2 linked regions of the Homo sapiens genome follow. The protein of the gene in region 1 interacts with the protein of each later gene in a biochemical or structural test. Each region holds a gene or a part of one and is shown on either strand. Other genes may lie near its edges.

Region 1 (6,854 bases):
TATGTCGTCTATATATTATGCATTTATTTGTCTTCTTCGTTGTGATGGTAAGCTCCTGGAGGGCAAGTCTTGCATCCACTGCTTTGCTGGCAACCCGACTGGTAAGCTTCTGGAAGGCAAGGCTTGCATCCAGTGCTTTGCTGGCAACCCGATTGCTAAGTACCGTGTTTTAAGCTTAGTTCAGTCTCAAGTGTTTGCAGCCACATCTGAAGACCAATAAAGCAACTGCTGGTTTATCCTTTGGGAGCTGACAGAATTTCTTCTCCCAAATACATACACAGTAAAATCATAAGCCTGGAATGAAGAAAAAAAAAATCTTACGGGCAATGCAATGGCTGCAAAACTATAAGGATTAGAAATGTGAACCCACATTTTAATCCAAATTAGGGCAATTTAGAGGTGGTAGCGTAAAGAATAGCTTGCTGTAATATACGCCATGCTGATACAGAATTGGCTTTTGGCCTTGTCAAAATTAAATTGTGCTTTCTGTATTGATGGTGGGCATGTTTCTGCAGGTCTCTCATTCTAAGCTACAACAGGCCCTAAGAGGTAGAAGTCACATACCTGAATTACCTGTGAAGTTGCTTTCAGATCATATCGTTGGTTCACTCTTACAGAAGGATCACTTTAAAATATCTCTGCATTTGTATCCTTGCAATGCCACAACTAAAAGACAGTTATCTCATAGGTCCTTGATTAAATTAGGAGGCTTTTTATTGAACACAAGAAATGATACTTTTCAGGCACTGGGCAGATAACTTGCTAGAAAGGCATTTTTTAACTGTGCTAAGATTGAGCTGAGTGCGTGGCTGGAGACACCACACAACACGGACCCTTGCTAAGGCATCTAGTCCACCCGCTTGTTATGTAGAGGGTGAAATGAAGCCCAAAACAGTCAATCGTGAACTCTAAGCCGATCAGGTGGGAAAGCCGGCATCTCTAGAATGAAAACCTAAGGCTGCTTCTCCCACTTTGCCTGAGCAAATATAGTGAGATTACACAGCAAGGCATGTGTAAATTGCCAGTGCCTATTTCTCAGAACCAGATTTGGTGATCGCAAAGACTGACGTGGCCCTCTAGGTGTGCCTATACTGCACCAGAAGAGCAAGCCGAGAAAGCAGTGCTCAAACCTAGAGCATTCAACCTTTCATACCGATAAAGGCTTTAAAAAAAAAAAAAAAAAAAAAAAAAGCCCAGGTAAGTGAAAAAGCCGCTTTCGGTCAACGACTTAAGTCTTTACGGCTGTGAGCGCTATGGGCCGCGGTAGCTTTCCGTTAACTTCAGATCCGATTGTCGCCCCACTGCCAAAGTTACCTTCCAACATCGTTACTGTTGCACTTTACGCAGTCAAGTGTCCAACTCCTCAGATGAGCAAGTGGTCGGCCCTAAAAAGGGCCTTTGGGATCGAAACGTGCAAAGCTGGAGCGGCGGCCTAGCCTCCGAAGCCGTACAGGGTGCGCCCCTGGCGCTTGAGCGCGTACACCACATCCATGGCTGTGACGGTCTTGCGCTTGGCGTGCTCGGTGTAGGTGACTGCGTCCCGAATCACATTCTCCAGGAACACCTTCAGCACACCGCGGGTCTCCTCGTAAATGAGGCCAGAGATCCGCTTAACGCCGCCACGCCGAGCTAGACGCCGAATGGCAGGCTTGGTGATGCCCTGAATGTTGTCTCTCAAGACCTTGCGGTGGCGCTTAGCGCCCCCTTTGCCTAAGCCTTTTCCGCCCTTTCCTCTGCCGGACATGACCGCTGGAGCCCGATAGACAGCTTCTGTCAAGGCGAGCACCGTCTTCCCCTGATATACAAGAGTATCGGACCAGATTGAAAACCGAAAGCGCGCCGGCGGGAAGCGTTCTCAATTGTCCCCGCCCTCTCGACATTTCGTCATTTCTTTTCTGTTTTCCTCTCCCTCCTCCTCCACTCTGCTCAGGTCCCTCTCACTCTTTTTTTTTTTTAACCGCTACGCCACAGTCCCCGGGAGAATTCAGATCCCAACCGGGGCTTCCGGATTCTGTAGTGGCTTTGGCCTGTGTCTGGTCTGAGGACGCCCGGAAGGCATTGCACTGAGGCTAAGGGAAAGGTCTCTGGAGGGAGCCTCAGGAAGAGCAAATGGAGGCCAGAGACTGGCAGGAGCGCGCCAGCGCAGGATTTAATCCCGACGAGCGGATTCAGAGCCGTGCTTATATAAAGCTTCAGGAAGCGCCGTTCCGACGATGAGGTCGACACGCGAGAGGCGACCTCAAGAGCGGCGGCGCCAGGGATCTGTGCGCCAAGGGAGGACGGGAGGGAGCAGGTTCGCCATAATTCCTGGCTCCAGGCTCTGTTTTGTTGGACCGAGCCACTGTATTTTAGCTCACACAGGAGAATTCTGGCCCTGGGAAAATTGGTCTCAGCATGCTGCCAAGCTTTCTCATGGACGTCAGCGAATCCCAACACACTGTCGGTCAAAGCCGTGCTGGAAGAAACAAAACAGTTCTCCCTCGGTAGAACTGAGAGGGGATTGGTCCAGGGCCCCCGCCGATACCAAAATCCAGGTTGCTCAAGTCTCTCATAGAAAGTGGCGTAGTATTTGCACATAACTATGCACATCCTCCCGTGTACTTTAAATAGTCTCTAAATTACTTCGTAACACCTAATCCAGTGTAAATGCTATGTAAGTAATTGTTATACTGTTTTTATTTTTACTATCTTTTGTTGTACTTTTTTTTAAAAAAGAAATTCATTTGTTTAATATTTTCGGTCTTGGGGAACCCGCGTATATGGAGGGCCTGCTACATAGAGAAGACTGAGGGATATTCTGTGCATCCGTTTCTACGGATCCTCTAAATCGGCCTTTGTTTTCAGCCAGGATTTAGTGCCCAGCTGTGTCCTTTGGAGGCCCCACATGGAGCTAGCAAAGTTTGCTAAATCGGGTTTTGCAAGAGGACTGTCTGCTCCATACTGGGAGTAGTTACCGCAAACTGCCCTATGAAATTGGTTGGGGTTCTTACTGTTAGCATGTTTATTACTTTATCAGGGCTCTCTGTAGGAGAGTCTATGAGAAAATCTTCTGGTTTCTGCTGAAAGAATCGTGTTTTGTTGGGGTTTTTTTCCCGAAAAATATTATTTTTAAAAACTCTTCTGTGCCCTGTTTAATCTCTCCCTTGGATCCACCTTCTGTGTGCTCATAAATCGTAAATCTGTATTCAGACTTCTGGACTCGAGACACGTAGATCCACCTGGTGGTTCTTCAGTCATTTTAAGCCCAAAACTCAAAATCTCCCGAAATCAAAATGTTTAAACTTATAATCTCCAGGGTGTGACTCACGGGGGATGAGGGGAGCAATTCTCTCCCTCCCCGCATAAAGCTGGTTCTCCTGTCTGCTCATTGAACGGTTCCACTGCGCATCACAGCATCTACATGCCTAAACCAACACCCCAGCATTGGCAACAGATATCTTCCTCTCCCTTGGCTGCTTCAGGACAGGGAAGAAACATGCTTGCCCTTTTCTGACTCTTTAGTAACTCTGGCCGAATCTATCACATTATTTTACATCTCTTTACATCTTACTACTCCCCCATCTTGGCTGTGTGTTCCCTACTGGCAGTGATTTTTGTTTATTCATTTTTGTAAACTGACACTTAGTTCAGTGTCCAATATAAGCTCAACAATAGTTTATAAAAGGAAAAGTTCCTGCCTTTGATTGCTTTTAAACACTATTAGAAAAGACATAACCAAATTGCAACATGATAAAACAACCGCAAAACAAGGCTGAGAGAAGTGGTGATTTCTGGTGTCAGAGGGCACAGGACCCTGGGCAGAATCAGAGATACGGTGTCTGTGCAGTTCCCTTTTTAAGGGGATCAGGACATGCTACCTCCAAATGTGCCAGTTTCGACTTAAGAATTATTTTCAGCTGAAACAAACAGCTAAAATCCCTTACCTGTTTAATAGCAGATCCTCCTCGCAAATCTCAAATTTTTAACTCAGTTGTCATAAATCTTCTTCAGCACTAGAAGCAAATCTAACCTCGGAGATGAGAAGTGGTCACCACACCCAAATAGACATTGTCACAAGACTCGAATCTTCCATCTATTCTAAGGGCCCATTTATCTTTTCAAAAGTCATTTGGTTTTCCATATGTCCTTTACTCCTCCTCCTTTTCCCCTGCTGCTAGGTAGATCCCAAATTCTAACCACTCCTTTGAGTTACTCATCACAGAGTGCTCCCATGTATACACTTTTTTTTTTTTTGTTTGACTCAGGGTCTTACTCTGTCACCCAGGCTGGAGTGCAGTGGTGCAATCTCAGTTTAAACCCCCAAGTCTGTGGTATTTTGTTATAGTCCCCCTAGAAATTAATACAGGATTCATGGTCTGCCAAAGTCTCATTCCCTGCTCAGACCGACAATGGATAGTGGGATCCTTTGTGATATGTGCTCTGTGAGTTAGAAGTAGTAACTTAGAGCTGTTGAGGACAATACCTTTGCACCCCATCCACTGAATTTTGTTTTCAAAGATACAGTCTGAAACTCCCAGAGGGTGAGTGCCTTTCCAGTGTGTCAGAGCCATTAGTGGCTGAGCAGACCGCTGAGCATGTAGATTTCTAGGTCAGGGCCCTCTCCCCAAAGAATCATACTCCCTGGTTGAACTGAACCTAAATCAGGTTTAAAACTAGACAGATGCCAACCAACTTAAAATTCCAAAGATATCCAAGACCTGCCCATGGCCCTGGGATTTGAGGACAACGTGTGCATGTCATGGCTATGGCAGTTCAGGGGTCTCTAGCTTAGTGGGAATGTCTATGTCCTACCTTGACCCTTCTGAGTCTTCCGCCCGCATCTGCCCCTCCTATGACAATGGAGTATTCATTCCCCAGATACAGCACCGTGAAAGAGAGGCAGGAACACTGGATAGTCTAAGACCTGGTCTTTCTTGGCTGGTGTGAGACAGTGGAGGCCTCACTACTTGGTCTTTTCTGGTGTACTGTCAAAGGTTGAAGCTGGGGCCTTGTGACTGCCTCCTGTTCTCTGTTCCAGGGATGCTACACAATAGAAGCTCTGGGCCTTGACCATGGAAAGGTCCCATGAATTCTCCACTCAGCCCAACTGAGCCCCCTGCTCTCACACTGGGTGAGGAAACGATAGGCAGTGCGAACAGGTGTATGCACACTCACTGAGGAAGTGCAGCCTGTCTGACCCACTCTCTCTCACCCAGCCTAGGGTCAGGCCATGGCAGGACACTGTTTCCTTAACTATCAGCAGCCATCTTGGGGATTTCCCCACAGGGCCAGGGCAACAGAATCTGCTTCTCACTGTGACCATGGTCTGGAAGGACCATGAGGAATTCTCCAGTGCTGTCGGGGTTTCCGATACTGACACAGACAATTTAGTAACAGCTTTGACACCTTTTGGTAATAGGACAAAGTTAACACTCCTGCCACTATCCTGTGAAGGCCAACCTTCCTAGGCCCCATAGGAAACTTTTGGAATGTCTTTGTTGGGTTGAGAAACTGGGGCAAAGTAGTACCCAATTTTTTCATGTCAATATCAAAATGTAATCATTTCAGGTACACAGAGTTCCGCACTTTCAGATTAGTCTTAAAGAAAAGAAAATCGCCGGGAACGGTGGCTCGTGCCTGAAATCCCGGCACTTTGGGAGGCCGAGGCGGACGGATCACCTGAGGTCAGGAGTTCCAGACCAGCCTGACCAACATGGTGAAACCCCATCTCTACTAAAAATACAAAAAAAAAAAAAAAAAAATTAGCCGGGCTTGGTGGCGGGCGCCTGTAATCCCACCTACCCAGGAGGCTAAGCTGACAGGAGAATCGCTTGAACCCGGGAGGTGGAGGTTGCAGTGAGCTGACATCGCACCATTGCACTCCAGCCTGGGCGACAAAAGCGATACTCCATCTCAAAAAAAAAGAAAATCAAGTAAAGAGCAATTCACATTCTCTTGAAAATTCTCATTATGTCCAGCTGGTTCCGGGGAAAGCCTACCATGAAAGTGGTATTGTTACTTAGACTTAGGGTCCTTTGATCAGAATTGATGATGTCCTCAGCTAAGTCAGTGCTAGGAGTGGGCAGAGATGAAGTGATGGATGTGACAGAGTTGTAGAATATAGATTTAATAAGATTTGGTGTTTTAGGGCGGGGCGTGATGGCTCATGCCTGTAATCTCAGCACTTTGTGAGGCCAAGGTGGGCCGATCACATGAAGTCAGGAGTTCGAGACCAGCCTGGCCAACACAGTGAAACCTCCTCTCTGCTAAAAATACAAAAATTGACCGGGCGTGGTGGCTGACACCTGTAATCCCAGCACTTTGGGAAGCCAACGCGGGTAGATCACGAGGTCAGGAGATCGAGACCATCCTGGCTAACACGGTGAAACCCCGTCTCTACTACATATACAAAAAATTAGCCGGACGTGGTGGCGGGTGCCTGTAGTCCCAGCTACTCAGGAGGCTGAGGCAGGAGAATGGCGTGAACCCGGGAGGCGGTGCTTGCAGTGAGCTGAGATCGCACCACTGCACTCCAGCCTAGGCAACAGAGCAAGACTCCGTATCAAAAAAAAAAAAAAAAAAAAAGAAAGAAGAAAGAAAGAAAGAAAGAAAGAAAGAAAGAAAGAAAAAATTGGTGATTTAGGCATTTGGAGAATGCATGCAATAAAGGAGCTTCTGGCCTGAGGAGCTATGGGGTTGATGTTAGGTTTCAGTAACATGGAGAATGCAGAGAGAAGAAATTGCTTTTATTTTTGTTTTTGTTTTTTTGAGAGAGTCTCTCTCGGTTGCCCAGGCTGGAGTGCAGTGGCGAGATCTCTGCTCACTGCAACCTCCGCCTCTCGGGTTCAAGCGATTCTCCTGCCTCAGCCTCCCAA
Region 2 (7,901 bases), on another chromosome or scaffold:
CATGGTTGCACAAACACCATAGAGTTTACTTACACAAACCTAGATGGTATAGGTTACTACACACCTGGTATATGGTATATAGCCTATTGTTCCAAGGCTATAAGCCTGTACAGCATGCTACTGTACTGAATACCATAGGCAACTGTAAAACAATTTTAAGTATTTGTGTATCTAACCAGAGAAAGAGTAGAGTAAAAATACAGTAACGCAATTTCATTGACCACAATCTACATGCAGTCTGCCATTGACCAAAATGTCATTATGCAGCTCATGAATATATACATTTACATATGTATAGTATAAAAAGGAGAGCTGCACTGTACTCATACATAACTACAACTGTCACTGAAATCTTTCAAAGTTTCTTACTGGGCTGCCTATAATCTCAGCACTTTGGGAGGCTGAGGCAGGAGGATTGCTTGAGGCCAGAAGTTCAAGGCCAGCCTGGGCAACATAGCAAGACCCTATCTCTACAAAAAATAAAAAGAAAATTAGCCAGGCATGGTGGTATGTGCCTACAGTCCTAGCTACTTGGGAGGCTGAGGCAGAAGGTTCACTTGAGCCCAAGAGTTTGAAGCTGCGGTGAACTATTATCACCACTGTATTCCAGCCTGGGCAACAGAGAAGACCTTATCTTCAAAAATAACAAAAACAAAAACAAAAACAAAGCATCTTATTGGCTTGTTTTTTGTTTGTTTGTTTGTTTTTGGCACAGTCTGACTCTGTCCCTCAGGCTGGAGTGCAGTGGCACAATCTCGGCTCACTGCAACTTCCGCCTCCCAGGTTCAAGCAATTCTCTTGCCTAAGCCTCCCAAGTAGCTGGGATTATAGGCATCTGCCACCATGGCTGGCTAATTTTTGTATTTTTAGTAGAGACAGGGTTTCACCATGTTGGCCAGGCTGGTCTCAAACTCCCGACCCCAGGTGATACACCCGCCTCAGCCTCCCAAAGTGCTGGGATTACAGGCGTGAGCCACCGCGCCCAGCCGGCTTGCTTTTGTAAGCTATGTTTGTTTAAAAAAATAAAAATAAAAAAAAAGCAAGTATCTTATTGGAACTAATAGTTATGTTTCTTAAAAGCTAATTACAAATCAAATCATTATTAATGGAACCACATTCAAAAAGCAGCAGGGAACTGTTGTTTTTCAACAGATCCAACATGAATCCTTTGGTAAAACAGGATGATCTTTTAAAGTAAATCATAGGGTCAGGTGTGGTGGCTCATGTCTGTAATTCCAGCCATTTGGGAGGTCGAGGCAGGTGGAGCACGTGAGGTCAGGAGTTCCAGACCAGCCTGGCCAACATAGCGAAACCCCACCTCTACCAAAAAATACAAAAATAAGCTAAGCGTGGCGGTGTGTGGTGGCACACACTTGTAGTCCCAGCTACTTGGGAGGCTGAGGTGGGAGGATCACTTGAACCCAGGAGGCAGTGGTTGCAGTGAGCTGAGATCACGCCATTGCACTCCAGCCTGAGCGACAGAGTGGGACCCTGTCTAAATAAAAATAAATAAATAAATAAATAAATAAATAAATAAATAAATAAAGTAAATCACTAGCCGGGAATGGTGGCTCATACCTGTAATCTCCACACTTTGGGAGGCAGAGATGGGAAGACTGCTTGAGCCCAGGAGTTCAAGACCAGCCTGGGCAACATAGTGAGATTCTGTCTCAATAAAATGAAATTTTAAAATACAACAACAATAAAGTAAATCACCACTCTGGACTTTTTATCATGAAACATCCTTTTATTTTTTTATTTTTTTGAGACAGAGTTTTGCTGTTGTTGCCCAGGCTGGAATGCAATGGTGCGATCGCAGCTCACTGCAACCTCCGCCTCCCAGGTTCAAGCAATTCTCCTGCCTCAGCTTCCAAGTAGCTGGGATTACAGGTGCCCGCCACCGTGCCCAGCTAAGTTTTTGTATTTTTACTAGAGATGGGGTTTCACCATGTTGGCCAGGCTGGTCTCGAACTCCTGACCTCAGGTGATCCACCTGCCTCGGCCTCCCAAAGTGCTGGGATTACAGGCATGAGCCACCATGTCTGGCCGAAAGATTTAAAAAAAAAAGAAAAAGCTCACCCAAACCAACTAGGAATAGAAGAGAACTTTGTCAACCTGAGAAAGAACATCTATGAAAAACTCACAGCTAACTTCATACTCAGTGGTAGAAGACTAAAGCCTTCCCCCTAGGATCGGGAAAAGACAAGGAACTAACTTTGTCTATACCAGAATTTCCATGGAAATGCCACAGAAGAGCTTTAATGCTCGTAAATACTTTGATTATAACTCAGTCCATCACCTTTACTTTATGAATCAAAAAACTTGGGCTCAGAAAGGCAAAATGACTTATCCCAGGTCATATAGCAAATTAGGGGCTGACTTAGAACTACAGTCCACTCCCTACCTCTGTTAAATCTTTACTTAAGGCCAGATGCAGTGGCTCATGCCTGTAATCCCAGCACTTTGGGAGGCCCAGGCAGATGGATCATCTGAGGTAAGGAGTTCAAGACCAGCCTGGCCAACATGGCAAAACCCCATCTCTACTAAAAAAAAAAAAAAAAAAAAAAAAAAAAAAAAATTACCTGGGTATGGTAGTGGGTGCCTGTAATCCCAGCCACTTGGGAGGCTGAGGCAGGAGAATCACTTGAACCCAGGAGGCGGAGGTTATAGTGAGCCGAGATCAGCACCACACTCCAGCCTGGGCAACAGAGTAGACTCGTCTCTTAAAAAAAAAAAAAAAAAAACAGATTTACTTAAGAGATTGTAAATATGGATACCACTAATCAAATAGATAAGATCTTTAGGCAAGCGCGGTGGCTCAAGCCTGTAATCCCAGTACTTTGGGAGGCCAAGGCGGATGGATCATGAGGTCAGGAGATCGAGACCGTCCTGGCTAACACGATGAAACCCCGTCTCTACTAAAAGTACAAAAAAAAAAAAAAGTTAGCTGGGCGTGGTGGCAGGTGCCTGTAGTCCCAGCTACTTGGGAGGCTGAGGCAGGAGAAATGGCGTGAACCCAGGAGGCAGAGCTGGCAGTGAGCAGAGTTCGCGTCACTGTACTCCAGCCTGGGAACAGAGCGAGACTCCATCTCCAAAAAAAAAAAAAAAAAAAAAGCTCTTTAGTTGGTGACAGAACTCAATCAAGAATATTTTGGGGAGACTAGACAGAGGTATCACCAAAAAAGAACACTACAAAGATTTCTTATGGATATAGATACAAATCCTTAATAAAATACAAGCAAACTGAATCCAGCAACAAAGAAAAAGGATTATATACCATGACAAACAAGATTTATCCCAGGAATACAAGGTTGGCTTAACATTCAAAAGTTAATTAATGTAATACACCATATGAACAGAACAAAAAAAATGGTCATCTTAATAGATGCAGAAAAAAGCATCTGACAAAATCCAGCACTCTTTCATGATTTAAAAAAACACCCAAACTAGGAGGAGAAGTGAAATTCTTCAATTTGATAAAATACATCTATGAAAAACCCATAGCTAACCCCATACTCAGTGGTAGAAGACTAAAGCTTTCACCCTAGGATCAGGAATAAGACAAGGATGTCTGCTCTTGCAAGTTCTATTGAACCATAGTGAAGGTTCTGGCCAAGGCAATTAAGCAGGAAATTGAAACAAAAGATATCTGGATTGGAAAGAAAGAAGTAAAATTATCTCTATCCATGGCTAACACAATCTTATAAATAGAAAATCCTAAGGTGTCCACTAAACTATTAGAACCAATAAACTAGTTCACCAAGGTTGCAGGACACAAGGTAAAAACTGTACCTCTATACTCTTGGAATGAACAATCCAAAAATAAAAGTAAGAAACTAGTTCCTTTTACTATAGCATCAAAAAATAAATAAATAATAAAATACTTAGAAATAAATTTAACAAAAGTGCAAATTTATACTCCTTAAACGGAAAAACGTTGTTGAAAGTAATTGAAGACAACCTAAATAAATGGAAAGACATCTCATGTTCATAGATCAGACGACTTAACATTGCTAAGATGGCAACACTGCCAAAGTTTAACTAAAAATTCAATGAGATCCCTATCAGAATGCCACTGAGTTGGCTTCTTTGCAGACACTAACAAGCTGATCCTAGAATCCATATGGAAATACAAGGAATCCAGAATAACCAAAACAATGTTGAAGAATAAGACTCACACTTCTCAATTTCAAAACTTACTAAAAAACTGTAGTAGTCAAGACAGCATGGTACTGCTATAAGGAGAGACATATAGATCACTGGAAGAGAACTGAGAGTATAAAATAAATAAACCCATACATCTATAGTCAACTGATTTTCAATAAGGGTGCCAAGACATTAAAATGGAGAAAAAAATAGTCTTTTCAGCTAATGGTGCTGGAACAATTGGATATTTACATGCAGAAGAATGAGTCTGAATCACTACCTCACATGATATCCAGCAATTACCTTAAAATGGATCAATGATCTAAATGTAACAGCTAAAGCCATAAACTCTTAGAAGAAAACAGAGACATCAATCTTCATAATCTTGAATTAGTCAATGATTTCTTAGACACAAGAATAAAATGAAAAAGAAAAAAAAAAGGTTTCATCAACATTAAAGACTTTTAGGGCCAGGAGCGGTGGCTCACACCTGTAATCCCAACACTTTGGGAGGCTGAGGCAGGTGGATCCCTTGAGGACAGGAGTTCAAGATCAGCCTGGCCAACATGGTGAAACCTCGTCTCTATTGAAAATACAAAAATTAGCCAGGCATGGTGGCACTCGCCTGTAATCCTAGCTACTCAGGGGGCTGAAGCATGAGAATTGCTGGAACCCAGGAGGCAGAGGTTGCAGTGAGGCAAGATCATGCCACTGCATTCCACCTGGGCAACACAGCAAGACTCTGTCTCAGAAAAAAAAAAAAAAAAAATTAAAGACTTTTAGGCCAGGCACAGTGGCTCACACCTACAATCCCAACACTTTGGGAGGCCGAGGAGGGAGAATCACTTAAGCCCAGGAGTTCGAGACCAGCCTGGGCAACATAGCAGGAACCCATCTCTATTATTTAAAAAAAAAAATTTTTTTTTAATTAAAGACTTTTGTGCTCCTAAGGAAACCATCAAAAAAGTGAAAAGACAGCTCATTTATGGAGGAAAATATATGCAAATCCATATTCCTGATAAGAGACATGTACCTAAAATACATAAAGAACTCTCATATCTCAATAATAAAAAAAGACAAACTAGCCAATTTTAAACTGGGCAAAGGATCTGAATCAAATTTCTCCAAAGGTATACAAATGGCCAATAAGCACATGAAAAGATGCTTGTCATTAGGCATTAGGGAAATGGAAAATCACTTCACACTCCCTATGATAAGCAAAAAGACAGACAATGTTGGTTAGGCTGTGAAGGAACTGGAGGCCTCATAAATTGCTGATGGGAATATAAAATGATACAGCCACTCTGGACAACAGTTTGGCAGTTTCTTACAAAGGTAAACCCAGACTTTGTTTAGCTTTGTTTTAACAAGTGATCCAGCAGTTTTACTGCTGTTACATACCCAAGAGAAATAAACATAGGTCCACACAAAAACTTGTCCACAAATGTGCAAAGCAGCATTATTTACAATAGCCAAAAGGTGGAAACAACCCAAATTTCAAACAAGTGGTGAATGCATAAACAAAACTTGGTATATCTATACAATGGAACACAATTTATCAACAACAACAACAAAATGAAGTACTGATGCATGCTACAAATGGATTAATTTTGCCGGGCAGGTTGGCTCACACCCGTAATCTCAGTACTTTGGGAGGCCCAGGTGGGATGATCTCTTGAGCCCAGGAGTTGGAGACCAGTGTGAGCATAATGAGATCCTGTCTCTACAAAAAAATAATAAATTAGCCAGGTGTGGTGGTGCATGCCCGTAGTCCCAGAGTTACTCAGGAGGCTGAGGCAGGAGGATCTCTTGAGCCTAGGAGTTTGAAATTATAGTGAGCCATGATCGCACCACTGCACTCCAGCCTGGATAGATTCCGTCTCCAAAAAAACAAAACAACAACAAAAGACATGGCATGGTAGGTTCCACCTCGCTGTCTCTCAGATCACTTGTTTTTGGGGAAACCAGCTGCCTGTCATGAGAATGCTCAAGCCACGCTATGGAGAGGCCCACATGGCAAGGAACCTGCCAACATGTGAGTAAGCCATCTCGGAAGGGGAATCACTAGACCCAGACAAGTCTTCAGGTGACTGCAGTCCTGGCCAACACCTTGACTTCAACTTCATGAGGGTCCCTGAGTTAGAATCAAGAAGCTTCCTGTGTTAATTCACTTAGGATTAAAAAAAAGAACCAATAAGCTAAGCCACTCCTAAATTCCTGACCCACACAAATCATGTTGTTTAAGCCACTAAGGTTTGGAATAATTTGTTACACCACAATACATAAACTTCCTCGACCTTCTCCTCAATGTTAGGCTCTCTCTCCTAATAACAGGCATCTAAGTAAATGTCTTCCCAGCAACTCCTCCTCTTCTTAGAGTTTAGTTTTATCCCTATCCATGTTTACAGAAATTGCTGCCATGTTACAAAAACATGATCCCATCCCCTGGCTTTAGGTGAATGATCCAAAAGTGGATACCTCACCAAAGGCAGGCCAAAAAAGTCCTTCCCTGAGATCTTTATAACTGAAGCTGAGAAGGCGGCGGTGTCTTTTCAGTAGTGGAAGCTGTAGGATGTAAAACTTGCAGTCTATCAACAGCATGATCTTTCCCATGTGGGAAAAGTGGCACAGTAGTGGGGAAGAATAAAGCCATCACATAGTGACAAGCAGAGATTCAAGGTGGACAAAATACAGACAATGCTAAGTTTCTGCTTCCAATGGTTCCTGATGCAACCCAGTTCTTCCAGTGGACAGACCATACATGTCCTATCATCCAAGCATCTAAAATCGCACCCAGTATGTAAGAGGAAATAAAATACTTACTAAATAAGTGGGTAAGATAACCCAATCTCCTTCCAATAATATCCTTTTTGTTATTGTTGTTGAAGATTTGATTATTTGAAAGCTAAAAGTCCTAACCCATTCTTTGCTAACTTTATACTTGAATATCCCTTTACTGTTATACTTAAGGCAGTATTATCTTTTTTTTTTTTTTTTTTTTTTTTTTTTTGGAGATGGGAGTCTTGCTCTGTTGTCAGGCTGGCGTGCAATGGCATGATCTCGGCTCACTGCAACCTCCGCCTCCTGGGTTCAAGAGAACCTCCTGCCTCAGCCTCCCGAGTAGCTGGGACTACAGGTACGTGCCACCATGCCCAGCTAATTTTTTGTATTTTTAGTAGAGATGGGGTTTCACCAGGTTGTCCAGGATGGTCTCCATCTCTTGACCTCGTGATCCACCCGCCTCAGCCTCCCAAGGCAGTATTATCTTAATTACTGGTTTATATGGCCTCCTCCCCTACTACTAGAGGGCGGGACATTTTCTTAGACATACATTCAAGAAATGTATGTTTAAGTGATCTGTTCAATCCTATACTCTGCATTCTTCAGCTTTTACAGTCACTGTCATCCACTTATCAACCACCTAACATCTGCAAGGCACTGGTAATACAATAAACTTACTAGACTTGCTCCTGGATTCTCATGCATTCAGTGAATCCATTCAACAAATATTAAGTACCTACTATATGCCAGGGGCTGCAAATAAACAAAGGACATGGTGTCTGCCTGCCTGCCTGCCCTCAAGGACCTTACAGTCTAATCTGTATTAGACTGTAATACAAGTAAATGGACTATTATAGTACCGTGTGTTAACTGTTACTGAAGAGATCCACACAGGCTGCTGAGCAGCCGCAAAGATTATGGCGAATTTACACTCTACATGAGAAGACTGGACATATACAGAAAAAGATAACAGC

What was found. Proteins that work in one complex are often made in the same cells at the same time.
Region 2: of the proteins of H4C14 (region 1) and RPS6KA5, one has a biochemical effect on the other in vitro, tested with the Homo sapiens proteins (one study listed by BioGRID).

The regions. Positions count from the first base shown.
Region 1 is NC_000001.11:149,827,575-149,834,428, reverse strand, and holds H4C14 (histone H4), read right to left. Parts: upstream 1,773-6,854; 5' UTR 1,745-1,772; coding exon 1,433-1,744; 3' UTR 1,377-1,432; downstream 1-1,376. UniProt on the Homo sapiens protein: Core component of nucleosome. Nucleosomes wrap and compact DNA into chromatin, limiting DNA accessibility to the cellular machineries which require DNA as a template.
Region 2 is NC_000014.9:91,049,741-91,057,641, forward strand, and holds part of RPS6KA5 (ribosomal protein S6 kinase alpha-5), read right to left. Parts: intron 2,723-7,901; exon of another isoform or gene 2,583-2,722; intron 1-2,582. UniProt on the Homo sapiens protein: Serine/threonine-protein kinase that is required for the mitogen or stress-induced phosphorylation of the transcription factors CREB1 and ATF1 and for the regulation of the transcription factors RELA, STAT3 and ETV1/ER81, and that contributes to gene activation by histone phosphorylation and functions in the regulation of inflammatory genes.